Linked DNA regions of Homo sapiens. The protein of the gene in region 2 purifies or fractionates together with the protein of the main gene of each other region. This does not show direct contact. Each region holds a gene or a part of one and is shown on either strand. Other genes may lie near its edges.

Region 1 (3,500 bases), on a different chromosome or scaffold from region 2:
GAATGGATCTAAGAATGAATAAATTGTGGTAGCTTAGAATGGATAAATTATGGGTAAAAGTCAGCTTCCCATCCCCAAAGTGGTTGGCAACAGTTATGAAACCTGTAATTTACTTGCATTTTATTTTTTATCCTTTGTTGGTTTCCCTAAAGCAGTTAGGAAACTGCTAAACAAAAAAAAAAAGGAGGGGGGAACTTTTCCCCCTCCTTTTTTTAAATGAAAAGGTATTTGTGTGCTTGTGTTTTGTTTTGTTTAGAAGGGCCACAATAACGATGAAGGAATGGAAGCACTTTCATTTGAGAATAAAAAGTTCCTATTTTTCAAATTCAAGGGAAAAAAATAAAAAAGTGACAACTCCTTGGCCCTAGTCCCAAGCCTTGAACAAGTAACCACAGACCCCTGCCCAATCTCTGAGAGCCTCATTTTAGTAACCCCTTTCTGAGGTTCATGTATGTACAACCATGCTTACATGAATCAGCCAATCCCCAATCACTCTGCTTTTAAAAGTCCACCAGTCTTTGTATCCCAGGCTTCTCAAAACTCTGTGATAAGATCAGCTCTGGCTGTGTGAGTTGAGATTTTCTTGGAAGCAGTAAATTTAGCTTCCCTGTTTCAGATACATATGGATGATGGTCCCTACTTTAGACAACACTGTTTGTCAGCCAGCTTTTGGAGAAGAACCCCAGAGGATAGAGAGGATAGTGGAACTTTAAGGAGGAAATGAAATCAAGTCTGATAGAGTCCCTGGAAAGCAGCTAACAAAATTTTCGTTGAGTTTTGCTCTGACCAAAGAAGCTGGACTGGGCCAGAAAGTGACCTTGAGCTTAGTGTTTAGAAATGCATAATGAGGTTATGGCAGCTCTTGTGTGAGAGTGTAAGCTTTTGAAGGCTAGAACCCAAATCAGTGCATTTTATTAAAGAAAATTTTTAAACTTAAAATTTTATAAAGAAAATTTTTAAATTTTTATCCTCCCAGTTCTACAATGCTAATGATCCTTAAATCTCTCCTTTTGCTGAGACCAGGATACATTTTTCACATAGATAACTTTGAAAAGAAATTTATCCGCTTCAAAACAGCTTCTCAAAAACTTGGTGTTTGCTTGTTACCCACCAAAAATTTCTCCCTATTATATGTTAACCCTTTCTGCCTCCCACTCCTCTCCCAGTTTGATTCCAGTCCACCTTTTTGGTTTTACTTTTGCCAAATAAATTCAGACTTTTCCTTCTTTACCTCAATAATTTTTTGATGCTAATTTATTCACCTTGTATGTCTTGGGCACCAGCTTTCCATAGCCATGTCCTCTTTAGAACCTCCTAGCACTTTCTGCATATCTTACGGTTCTTATCCTGTTTTATTTTATATCTTTTGTTCATTTAATGAACATTTGCTACGTACTGTGCTCTGTGATGGGACCCTCTCAAGCAAATATAACATGATTTCTGCCCTGGAGTAGTTCAGCCCAATAGGAGAAATGGATATATAAGTAGATAATTGCAACATGGTGAGTCGAGTGCAGTGGAGTGGTATGTGGTTATGGTACTAAGTCCTAGGAGGGATCACTAAGCCTGTCCTTGGGTGGTGGATACAAGAGAGGAATGTAGAAGTAGAATTGCTTACTCAGAAATTGTCCTTAAAAATCATGAGAGAGCTGGGCATGGTGGTTCATGCCTGTAATCCCCGTACTTTGAGAGGCTGACGGGGAGGATTGCTTGAGCTCAGGAGTTCAAGACCAGCCTGGGTAACATAGGGAGACCCTGTCTCTACCAAAAAATAAAAAAAAGTTAGCCAGGTGTGGTGGCATACATCGGTAGTCCAAGCTACTCATGAGGTTGAGGCAGGAGGATTGCTTGAGGTTGGGAGGTTGAGGCTGCAGTGAGCTGTAATCAAGCCACTATACTCCAGCCTGGGTGAAGGAGCAAGACCCTGTCTCAAAAAAAAAAAAAGAAAAAAAAGATCTTGAGAGGTATTGCCAAATTACCCTGTAAAAGCATAAAAATTAAAATTTTTCTACTTTTACTACCACCAGATGTTAGTAATCTTAATAGTTACTGTTTTGATAATAAAAATTTGACATTTTAAATGGCATTTCTTTATTATTAAAGTTGAATAACCAAATATTTGCCACTTGAGTTTGACTGATATATATTTTAGCTTTTATAGCCTACACATTTAAATTTTGGAATAGTTGGCAGATTTTTAGGAAAGTTACAAGTATAGTACAAATAACTTTTTTCCCTGAATCACTTGAGAATAAGTTGCCAAAAAAGTTGCCACATTACCCTAAATACTACAAACAAGAACATTCTCCTACATATCCATAACAAAACCATCAAAATCAGGAAATCACTACATTCGAGCGGGTTATAGTCTATATAACTATATAGATTATCACTGTATACCAAACCACCCCAAACTTACTGGAGTAAGACATTTTATTTAAGAAGCGCATCAGTTCTCTGGGTCAGTTCTATTCAGACAGGGAAGGGAGATGGTTTGTTTCTGGTCCACAGTGTCTGGGCCTCATCTGGGAAGACTCAAAGGCAGGGGGTGACTTGACAGCTAGGGCTGGAATCCTCAAGAGGCATCTTCACTCCCATGCTGGTAGTTGATGTGGAACACCTCTACCTGGTGTCTCTGTGGGCTAGTTGGCACTTTCTACACATGTGGTATCTAGATTCTGGGCATGATCATCCTGAGAGAGGTATGTGGCATTTTTATGATCTAGTCTTGGAATTCTCATGGCATTATTTCCTCCATACTTGATTGGTCAAGGCAGCCACAAAGTTCTGCCCAAAGGTCAGGAGGGGGCATTAGATGCTGCCACTTTTGGGAGGAGTGTTAGGGCCGTATTGTAAGAGCATGTGGGTTGGAAGGTATTGTGTGTTTGGAAAATTCACTTTGCCACAGGTTGTATCTGTTACTTGATATATGCCCACATTGTCTCGTATCTGGCCTATGGGAGCCCTTTCAAGCTGGTTACTTCTGTGTTCTGTTGACATGCCTCATTGAGCAACTGCTTTATATTCCGGCACAGGATGTTCTAGGCTCATCTTGTCTTTACCATGCTCCAGCCATTTTTCCTAGGGTTCTTTTTAAAGGAAAGCGGTATTTAGGAATTCAGGTTTGAGCCCTAGTTGTGCCCACTGCTACTGGGGTGTATAACTGCATCCAGGCACTCTCAGTGGGCAGAGCTATGGAATGTATGTGTGTATGTGGACACACACTCTCAAACTATCTCTATTCTTCTATCTGTGTGTTGAAAACAATGAGTTCACTTCAGTAACCCCTAGTCTGGTCAAGTACTACAGGGTTTATTTTAATTTTGTGCCTTTTTAGATATTGTTTTAAACAGCTTGAGATATAATTTATGTACCATACAATTCACCAGTTTGAAGTGTACAGTGAATGGCTGTGGGCTCATTCACATTGCGTATACATCACCACAGTTGAGTTCAGAACGAAGAAGCCCTGCTTCCATCACTTCCCAGTTCTCCCAGCC
Region 2 (3,441 bases):
GCTGTGGTGGAGACGGTGTTCTTCCTGACGTCGCGCACCAGGGCGCTGCTGCGGCGCTTCCCTCGCATGCTGCTGGTGGACCGGCTGCCGGGGCTGCAGGGCGCGCTGGATCTGCTGGCCGTGCTGTGCGTGGACGGCTCGGGCCGTGCGCGCCAGGCTGCCTGCTGCGTGGCGCGCCCGGGCACACCGAGCCTGCTGCGCTTCGCGCTCGCGTCGCTGCTGCAGAGCGCGCCAGACGTCAAGGGCCGCGTGCGCTGCCTCACCGCCGGGCCCGAGGTGGCGGCGCAGTTGCCTGCAGTGCGCCAGCTGCTGCCCTGCGCGCGCGTGCAGATCTGCCGCGCGCAGGGCCTGGAGACGCTCTTCAGCAAGGCGCAGGAGCTGGGCGGCGCCGGCCGCGAGGACCCGGGCCTGTGGTCGCGCCTGTGCCGCCTGGCTGGCGCGTCGTCGCCCGCAGCCTACGACGAGGCGCTGGCCGAGCTCCACGCCCACGGCCCAGCCGCCTTCGTGGACTACTTCGAGCGCAACTGGGAGCCCCGCCGCGACATGTGGGTCCGCTTCCGCGCCTTCGAGGCGGCCAGAGACCTGGACGCGTGTGCCCTGGTGCGAGGCCACCGCCGGCGACTGCTGCGTCGTCTCAGCCCCTCGCGTGGCGTGGCGCAGTGCCTTCGCGACCTGGTGGCCATGCAGTGGGCCGACGCGGCCGGGGAGGCGGTGCCCGAGGGGCCCGATGGCGGGGGGCCTTGGCTGGAGGATGAGCCAGGGAGGGGAGCCCAGGGGGAGAACGAGAGGGTGAGGGGCCTGGAGACAGGCGACTGGGGAGGGGCTCCGAAAGAAGGAAGTATTTGGAGGGGAGCCCAGATGGAGAAGGAGTGGGCAAGGGCACTGGAAACCAGAGACTGGGGCGGGGCTCAGTTCGAAGGTGAGAAGGGGAGGGCACTGCAGATCAGAGATTGGAGAGGGGGTCGGTTGGAGAATCAGAAGCCGAGGGGACTGGAAGGGGGTGTCTTGAGAGGGTCGAAGTTAGAGAAAGGGCACCTGAGAGGGCCAGAGATTAGAGACTGGAGGGGGCCCCAGTTGGAGGGTGAGAAAGATTGGGGACTGGAAGGTTATGTCTGGAGGGGGTCCCAGTTGGAGGACCAGGCGCTAAGAGGATTGGAAGGGTATACCTGGAGGGTGGCCCAGCTGGAAGATCGCAGGAGTACCACCGACCTGAGGGGGACCCAGTTTGACTATGAGAGGGTCAGGAGTCTTGAAGGAAGCCCCTGGAGGGGGGCGCAGCTGCACGATGAAAGGGCAGGGGGACTGAGAACTGCAGAATGGAAGGGGCCACAGTCAGAAGTAGAGAAGGGGAGGGGGCTGGAGGTCAGAAACTTGAGGGGGATCCCCTTGGAGAAGTCCCTGGAGTTGGCCCCTGAGAACGGAGACCAAAGGGGACCCCAGTGGGAAGATGAGAGGAGGAGAGGGCCAGAGATTGCAGAGGAGAGGGGAGCGAGGGTGGGGGTCAAAAGAAGAAGGGGCCTGGAGGATATAGTTCTGGTCCAGCTGGGAGACACGAGGGTCACAGGCATGGAGAATGGAGATGGAGGGGGAGCCCGGTCCGTGGGCCCCAAGAGCCGAGCCGGACGAGGGATGGAGTGGGGAGACGCAGGAGGGCGGTGTCTAGGGCTGGGGAATGGAGTCGTGTCTGGCACCCCGGTGGGGACTGTATTGGAAGGCAGCCCAGAATGGGCAGCGGCGAGGAGTGAACACCTGGCTGCAGGTGACGGCCTGCAGGAAGGAGGCGAAGATGGCCCCAGGGAACCAAAGAGGCTTTGCCGACCCCCGGGAGAGGAGGAGGTGGACTGGGAACCCCTGGCCAAATTCCGAGCAGCCTGCGGGCCAGAGCTGGCAGACCTGGTGGCTGAGGAGTTGGCCTTTGCTAGGCAGCATGGGACCCGGGGTTTCCACTGGACCGGAGCTGGCTTTGCCCTTAAGGACGGCACCTCGGACTTCTTCCTGGATGGGGCCCTGACACGCTGCAGCTGCTCAATTCACGCCGCCCGCCGTCTGCCCTGCAGACACCTCTTTGCAGCGCGCCTCCTCACTGGGGCTGCCTTATTCCACATGGACCTGCTCAGGGATTGCTGGGGGAGAGCCCCAGAGCCCTGACCCTTCATGCCTCTGCCCACCACCCTCCACCAGGAGGGTCGGAGGGCATTCTTCGATCCCAAAGATAATAGGGCTGAGGCCAAGGAGACCGTTGCAGTCCCCCTGGCCACCTTCTGGGTCATCCAGGGACCTCCTCATGGCAGTTTGCCTCTCTGGGTCCAAGGGCAAGCTGTAAGTGGTCTCTGAGGTCCTGGAGCCACAGCTTGGGAAGGTGTTGATGGGCAGGGTGGATTCTGAGGGCTTCCCTCTGGAGAGGAAGCATGTGATGAGAGGTGTAGACAGGGTCAGGCTGGGACAGAAGGAAGGAAAGGGGCAGAGCTGGGGGGAGGGGGAGGAAGCGATCATATGGGGAGTGTCTGGCAAGAGTAGACTGGCCAGTCTAGGGAGTGCAGCGGGGAGAGGGGAAAGGGAGAAAGTACAGAAGACAGATGAAGGAGAGGAGGTAAGCGAGAAAAAATGGAAAGGGGAGCCGGAAATGGAGGAGAGAGGACAAGCAAAGAGACAGAAATGAAGACATGAGGAAAAGCTGGGGGAAGCAGGAGAGGAAGGGACGGGATGTAGGAGGGGGAAGAAAAATCGGAGATGAGACAAAAGAAATGTGTGGGAGACGGGTAGAGACGAAATGCAAGGGGCGTGGTTTTGGTTTTTCTCCAAGACCTGGAGACATCGACCCCCATCGCCTTCTGAAGAGAGAGGGAGGGCGGGCACTGGGGGTCAGGAGAGTCTCCAGCAGGGGAGGGGAATTGTTTGGACTATTGTTCTTCAGGATTGGAATAAAACAATCTTATTTTGGTTTCCGTGATGAGTTCTTGGCTTCTGGGGTTGGTTGGGAGTCCCAGATCCAGGGAACAGTTGAGATGGTCCAGCGTTCCTTCATTCTTTCTACCGACAAGGCCTCCTGGGGCCAGATGGATAGAGGAGCCACAATGAATTCATCTCCATAGCAACTCAAGCTTCCTCCTCCATCATCTGGACCAGTGCGTCCCAGTGGCAACTTCTTGACATGAGTCGATTCTACCTTCAAATGACTGACTCATGCCAAATGTCCTGGCCACAGAATGGGCCTGTGACCCAGTCCTGGTCAACGAGTCTGCTCAGGTTGAGGTGGGAGGCTTTTTTATTTTTATATTTTTGTAGAAACAGGGTCTTGCTATGTTACTCAGGCTGGTCTTGGACTCCTCGGCTTAAGCAATCCTCCTGCCACAGCCTCCCAAAGTGCTGGGATTACAGGTGTGAGCCACTGTGCTCAGAACTAGGAAGCTTTTTTTTTTTTTTTTTTGAGTCTTGCTCTGT

Evidence for each region. The genes of interacting proteins can lie anywhere in the genome.
Region 1: the proteins of ZSWIM9 (region 2) and ADNP2 purify together in Homo sapiens (affinity purification with mass spectrometry, with the first as the bait; one large-scale study listed by BioGRID). This does not show direct contact.

Annotation. Positions count from the first base shown.
Region 1 is NC_000018.10:80,112,262-80,115,761, forward strand, and holds part of ADNP2 (activity-dependent neuroprotector homeobox protein 2), read left to right. Parts: intron 1-3,500. UniProt on the Homo sapiens protein: May be involved in transcriptional regulation. May play a role in neuronal function; perhaps involved in protection of brain tissues from oxidative stress. May be involved in erythroid differentiation.
Region 2 is NC_000019.10:48,194,680-48,198,120, forward strand, and holds the end of ZSWIM9 (uncharacterized protein ZSWIM9), read left to right. Parts: coding exon 1-2,148; 3' UTR 2,149-2,941; downstream 2,942-3,441.